Homo sapiens: one gene and its partner. The protein of the gene in region 2 purifies or fractionates together with the protein of the main gene of each other region. This does not show direct contact. Each region holds a gene or a part of one and is shown on either strand. Other genes may lie near its edges.

Evidence for each region. Proteins that work in one complex are often made in the same cells at the same time.
Region 1: the proteins of C1orf21 (region 2) and PPP2R1B purify together in Homo sapiens (affinity purification with mass spectrometry; one large-scale study listed by BioGRID and IntAct). This does not show direct contact.

What each region holds. Positions count from the first base shown.
Region 1 is NC_000011.10:111,759,890-111,763,389, forward strand, and holds part of PPP2R1B (serine/threonine-protein phosphatase 2A 65 kDa regulatory subunit A beta isoform), read right to left. Parts: intron 1,163-3,500; coding exon 930-1,162; intron 63-929; coding exon 1-62. UniProt on the Homo sapiens protein: The PR65 subunit of protein phosphatase 2A serves as a scaffolding molecule to coordinate the assembly of the catalytic subunit and a variable regulatory B subunit.
Region 2 is NC_000001.11:184,624,529-184,628,028, reverse strand, and holds part of C1orf21 (uncharacterized protein C1orf21), read right to left. Parts: 3' UTR 1-3,500.

The DNA.
Region 1 (3,500 bases), on a different chromosome or scaffold from region 2:
ATTTGGAAGCAGCAGCACGTCGTACCATTGGTGTGTCATCTGAGCACAAGGAACGGAATTGCCTGCAACATAAAACAATGAAGGTATTTCCCATCAAATAACACTGAATAAACCTGCCCCCCATACACACAGACAGACTTTTAGAGGTTTTATCTTACAATAATCAGTGACTAAGCTTCTACTTATAGAAGTAACAAAAATAAAACATATTCAACTGGATAATAAAAAATGACATCATAGGCCAGGCATGGTGCCTCACACCTGTAATCAAAGCACTTTGGGAGGCCCAGGTAGGAGGACTGCTTGAGGCCAGGAATTGAAAGCAGACTGGGCAACATAGCAAGACCCTATCTATATGCCAAAAATATTTTTGTTGTTGTTTGTCGGGGGCTCAAGTGAACTCCCACCTCAGCCTTCTGAGTAGCTAGAAATACAGGCGGGTCCCACCATGCCCAGCTAATTTTTTTCTTTTTAGTAGAGACAAGGTCTCACTATGTTGCTCAAGCTGGTCTTGAACTCCTGAGTTCAAGCAATCCTCCCACCTCAGCCTCTCAAAGTGCTGGGATTACAAGCATGAGCCACTGCATCCAGCCAGAAATTTTTTTTAAAAATTAGCCAGGCGCAGTAGTGTATGTCGGTAGTCCTAGCTACTTGGAGGCTGAGGCTGGAGGATCACTTAAGCACAAGAGTTCAAGGTTGCAGTGAGCTATGATTGTGCCACCGCACTCCAGCCTAGACAACAGAGCAAGACCTTATCTCTTAAAAAAAAAAAAGAAAGATGTCATAAATCCTACTATCCTAGTATCAGCCACTCATTGGTAACAAGGTACTATGTAAATTGTCAGCTACAAGTCCCCAGTAATCCCAAATAACTCATAGCTTACTACCTGATTTCTGCTTTAACAAGGCAAAAAAATACCATGGCTTACTGTCTGATTTCTGCTTTAACAGCATTTGATGCCCTGGGATAGCAAACGCTGAACAAACCACATGCAGATGTGCGAGAGGTGAACCAATCCCCACTTGCTAAGCGTTTCACCAGAGGTACAAAATAAGCTTCCAGAGCAACAGGAGTATGCTCCTGGGAGATCTGTCTCAGGGACTCCACAGCCTTGTCACGAACAACAGTCTCTTCCACAGTTGCCAGATTTTCCAAAGGAGGCTGAATGGATTAAAAAGGAAAACCAGAGAAGAAAACTTATTGAATCAGGTTAGAAACAGATAATCACCTTTTAAAGTGACTGAAGGGAGGTGGTACACGTAACCAGAATGTTAGCTGCATCATACCAAATGGTTACTTTCAGCTCACACAGTGATAACATATGGTGCGGCCAACCCAAAGACACGACTTCTGTAGAAAAGCCAAGATCTCGTGTCCCAGATGGCAATTCCCAGATGGTGTCTACAAATGACACAGTGTAAAAGACTTGACACAATATTAATATTACTGTGAGTTGAATCACTAGGTTTAAAAGATACATAGCCAAATTCAGACAGGATCATGTATATTTCCTCAAGAGTAAGTACAAAACTATGACCAATGTTAGGCACCACAAATACAGGATAACAGCTTGTCAGGTCACTGAGTCCACAGCCTTTTCAGTATCTTTCCACCATTCCCAGAGGTGCAAGCAACCCTTATCCACCATCTCCATCCCATCCTTTTATCCAACCTATAAAATGCTGAATGCAAAATTGCTTTTTTCAGAACACATTCAGCAACTTTCCATTAGCCATAGGGCAGAAAGGAGTTTCTGACAGAACAATCAAGTGAAAACTACAGAGACTGGCCAGGCACGGTGGCTCACACCTGTAATCCCAGCCGTCGGGAGGCCGAGGTGGGCAGATCACTTGAGGTCAGGAGCTCGAGACCAGCCTGGCCAACATGGTGGAACCCTGTCTCTACAAAAAATACAAAAATTAGCCAGACATGGTGGCACACGCCTGTAAACCCAGCTTACTCAGGAGGCTGAGGCATGAGAATCACTTGAACCCGGGAGGCAGAGGTTGCAGTGAGCCGAGATTGTGCCACTGTACTTGAGCCTGGGTGACAGAGTGAGGCTCTTGTCTCAAAAAAAAAAGGTAAAGTACAGAGATGGTAGGACACCTTGCTTACAGCTTTAGAAATAAAAGAAGCCAAATGGGGTGGATGGTCTGGATTAAGAGCAGTAACTGAATATGGCATGGCCTAGTAAAAAGTGTAAACAGGCTGGCTCTCTGAACCTCTGCCTTACTGAGTTTGCATGTAGTCCAGGTAGATTCTACACATGCCATGAGCTACAGATTTTAAAGCATAAAACCCACATATAGAACTAACCAAGAGTGAAACAGAAGCATAATGAGTTAAAGAAAAGAAGTGTGTCTAATAATATATTTTAAAAATTGTTTGATACACACAGGTAGACAGTATTCAGCTTTCCTAGAAGGTATTTCAGAAACTCATTGAAAAGATACTGTTTCTCACTTGCCAATGCATTTCATGATCTGTCCCCTGCCTACTGTAACCCCCTCTCGTGCAGTACCACTGGATAATAGCTATCATTACTACAGGATGAGGCCATGCTCCTGAGAATTGCTTATGAGTGGTCTCTTGATTTGAACTCTGCCTGGCCCTTGATGACCACTCTGCCTACCCAGCCTCAACACTTCACACTCCAGCAGTTCTTTTTTTTTTTTTTTTTTAAGAGACAGGGTCTTGCTCTGTTGCCCAGGCTGAAGTGCAGTGGCACAATCATGGCTCAGTGCGGCCTCAGACTCCTCGTCCTTCTGCCTCAGCGTCCCGAATAGCTAGGACTCAGACACATGACATCATGCCCAGCTATTTTTTTTTAAGTGTTGGGGTCTCACTATGTTGCCCAGGCTGATCTTGAACTCCTGGCCTCAAGCAATCCTCCTGCTGCTTTGGCCTCCCAAGGCAAGGATTACAGGTGTGAGCCACCACACCCAGCCACACTCCGGCAGTTTTGAACCCAGCCTGTTTCATGCTTCCAAGCCTCTGAAACTCATTTTTTCAATACATTATTATTGGTATATTCTAGCATTGAGGACACAGAAGAAACAAGGCAGACAAGGTTCCTCACTCTAGTGGCATTTACATTCTAATGGAGTAAGACAACAATCAATCAAGAAAATAAGTAGATGGTGATGAGTACTCTATAGAAAAAAGGAGTAGGATGATGTAGTAAGGGATGACTGTGAGGCTATTTTAAGTTGAGTGGTTGGGGAAAACCTCCCTGAGGAGATGCATTGAAGTTGATCCCTGAATGACAAGGAGCCAGCCACAGAAAGCTTGAAAGAGCTTTTCATTAGAGGGAAGACCTAGGGCAAAGGTCCTAAGGGAATAATGAGCTTGGTTAGTTCAAAAAACAGAAAGATGACCAATGTGAATGGAAGAGGTTATCAAGGCCTTTTGCAGTCTGTTCCCTGCCTACTGTCACCTCTTCTCATGCAGTACCACTGGGCATATGATAATCCTACAGAGGCGGGTCATAAAAAGCCTT
Region 2 (3,500 bases):
CTTGAATATAAGGCCATGTTCCTAAATAAAATGCAAATACCCTTGGGAAGGGCAAATATGTAGCCATTAACAACTGGCATGGAGGCATTTTGATCCCTTCCTGGCAATGAGGTGGAGGTGAGTGGGAAGTGGGCCAGGGCAGAAAATGGGGAGAGGTAAACTTGGCTTATATTCCATGAACAAGCCTAAGGCAAACTTGGCTTATATTCCATGAACACATGGCCCTAAGGGGACCTGCCAGGGGCTCTAGTTTTTAAATGGGTGAATATGAGGCCAAATGTTTGTTGGTTTCCAGCATCAGGATTACCGCTGGACAAATTCTAATCTAAACACCTGGGCCTGCGGAATATCCGAGTGGGCATCGCTAGCCTCAGAATTACAAATTCCTCAGTGAAGAGCAAGAGGAAGATCTGGAAAAAGTGGGTGTTTGAGCTAACATCTTTCCAAGGGTCCAGAAAGCTGGCGTTGCTGTTGAGTATGCCAGGAGGGCAGGGGTGGGTGTTTTGCAAAAAAGGTCAGCCCCAAGGTGCAGCAAGGCCCAGTGCCCCTTAGCTAGGAAAATTGCCTTCAGCACCAACGCCTCCAGCCTCTCAGGGGAACTGTCTTCTGTTTGAGCTTTTTCTTGAGTTTCTGGAAACAGTGTTGGCTTATAGCTGGTATTCTGATGCATCTAATTCTTTTCCTTTCTCCTAAACATTTTTCTAATTATTTTTCTGGGGGTGGGGAGGGGAGAAAAAAACCCAATGCTCTGAACTCCGAGGTTATTTGGAAAACCTAAAAGGCACTGCAAGTTGTCTCCATAGAGAGATTCTGCTTGTCTCTGAGCCTTCCCTGACTCATACCTGCAGAGCTCCCAGCTCTGGCAGCCTCCAGGTACCCACGAGGTCTTCCCTCCACAGCTGTCTAGGCCTATGGGTATTTTCCACTTGCATACAATTTGTCTGTGCTTTTTAAAAATCTCCTTTCTTTGGCAGGACTCGGGTGTGTATTTGGGACCCAGCAGAGGCTTGGCCACCAGGTGTATGTGACCTAATCCAGGGGAAGGCTGTCCAAGAGAGCTGCCTTTAGTTAGGATCACACACTAGACAGGGAAGCCCTCTGCTGCTTCCCGTATATTTATTTTAGGGTGCATTCTCATCCCTGGGTCTAGGCCAGCCTGGTCCCAAACGGTATTTTTCGCCTTAGTGGCTCTAAAGAAGGTCATGCTGACCCAGAGCTGTCCCCTTTGTCTCCAAACCAGATCCGGCCCAGGTTAAAGTCCTTGAATTCAAATAGCTTTTGGCAGAGGAAGAGGAGTTGGGGCTGGGTAAGGGACAGAGGACACCCTGGGATGAATCATCTCAGCAAGCACCCCTGCACTGCCGCAGTGAGCAGGGAAACCCCGGCCCTGATTGTGACCACACCTTACCTGTCTGGAGGACCTCAGCAGTGGGCTGCAGAGGACACAGCACCACCTAAAGCTCTTATTTATGCTCCCTGAATCCCCAGCAAAGCCCCGGGAACCCTCTGTGGCTAGCCTGGCTCACTGCCCCGTCCACGTCCCTTGCTCTTCTCTCTCCCTCTACAAGTCCAAGCTCCAGCCTCTGTACTGCAGGCTGGCCCTGGACAGTCCACACTGGCCCTCCTTTGGGCTGAGTCCTGTGCTATCCTCTCAGCCTGAAAGTCCTTTAGTAACACTCTCCCTCAGTCCTCTGACACATCCGGGCTTTGATGTCACCTCTTTCAGGAAGCCCCTGATTGCCAAAACTGGGCTGGCTGCCACGGTGAGATGCTCCCACAGCACTCAGGACTTTCCCCTGTAGGGTACTTCCATGCTGCCTCCCTCGTTATGGCTAGGTTCCTTGAAGGTGGATTTAGTTCAGTTGTGCTTTGCTGGCAATTAGCGCAGTGCCTGGAGTGTACCAGGGGCTCCAGAAATAAATGAGTTCAATGAATGAATCATCAAGACTGGAAAGGCAATGCTAAAAATGCTATACCTGGGTCAACCTAGATGAAGGGACCCCAACTCCACACACTGGGGTTAGAGCATCCCAGTGGAGCTGCTGAAATGCCAGTCAAGTCCACATGGATGAGGGGGACAGTGTGTGACACATGTGGTGGCTGTATGTGGCTGGACCAGGCACACGCCGTTAGGGATGTGTCTATTATGTGTGTAAGGCCAGGAAAGGATGTCAGCCACAACACCCCGGCTAGCAGCCCAGACGAGTCAAGCAGATGTAGTAGGGCATCCAGGCACAGATGGGGCACAAAGCAAGACGAGTAGCAGACCTCGATTCTCCCATGTGAGTCGAACTCAAACTTTCTCAAGAGTGATGGCTGGTTTTTCCTGTTTCGGTATCCCTATAGTTATACTATTACTTTCCTAGACACTATCTTGGAGATTACAGAAAGGCAAAATACAGCTCTTTCTTGAAGTATTGCAATGATAGAGTAAATTTCCTTTCTCCACGTATCTCTCTGTATATGTATGTATGCGCGTGTATGTGTATGTGTGTTAAGAAAATAGATCCGAATCTAAAGTTCTAATAAGGCAGCTGCCTGGATCTATTCCAGGAAAAGAGTAATTTTATGAATTTGCATCTTGGTTTGAATGGAAAAACTGGCTTGAAATCTATTGCAAAACTTTCTTTGCTTGCTTGCCTGTCAAGAGAGAACAGTCCTTGAAGGTCTAGACTGAAATGCCAGGACACAGGGGCTATTCTCTCCCTTTAGAGTCAATGCCAAGAGGTCCCCCTAAGGCTGTAGAATTATTTTCAACTCTAGAGACCCTAAGGGACCTCTGCCTAAGTTTATGGTGTTCTTTATACTGCCTCTAAGTCTTACTCAATCAAATTCAAAGCCTTGGGCTAAAAATGGAAGCAAAGAAGGGCGAAATCAGGGTAGAGAGGGCAGACACTATCAGAATGAAGCCTTCAGTTTAGAGGTGAATCTTCCCGAAATACAGCAATTTCTGTGGTTCCCAAGTTGTAAGGGCCATTTCCCACATCATCTTGAAGGGACATGACAGCTGCCAGGTTAGAAAGAAGCAGGATCTTGGGGGCCAGATTTCAAAGGAAAACTGGATATGACAGCCCCTTTACACAAGGACATTGTTTTGGTTCCTTCGAGCAAAGTAAGTAAAGGTGGGAGCGGGTCCCGTCTAGGCAGCACCTTTAACAGTTGCTATGGAGACATGAGTCATCTTTAGAGGATGTGATTCAAGAAGCAAGAAGAGGAACTCTGAGGAGTTCTTGGGCTCTTCCGACCTTGGAACAAGTTATTTAAATGTCTATCCAAGTCATTACATGACTATCTAAAACATGTAAGGTCTCGAAAGAGATTTGCATCTAGTTTCAGTGCTTAAATGGACCTGGAAGATGCAGATCCCCAGTCCAAAGATGAAAAAGAGACATCAAACCCTAGCCCACAAGAAAGGATTTCAATGCAAGTCAGTGGTCCAGGCATTGCCTTTCCTCCATGCTTGGAGATCGGATTGTCCCAGACCCCCATGAAGGTCAAGA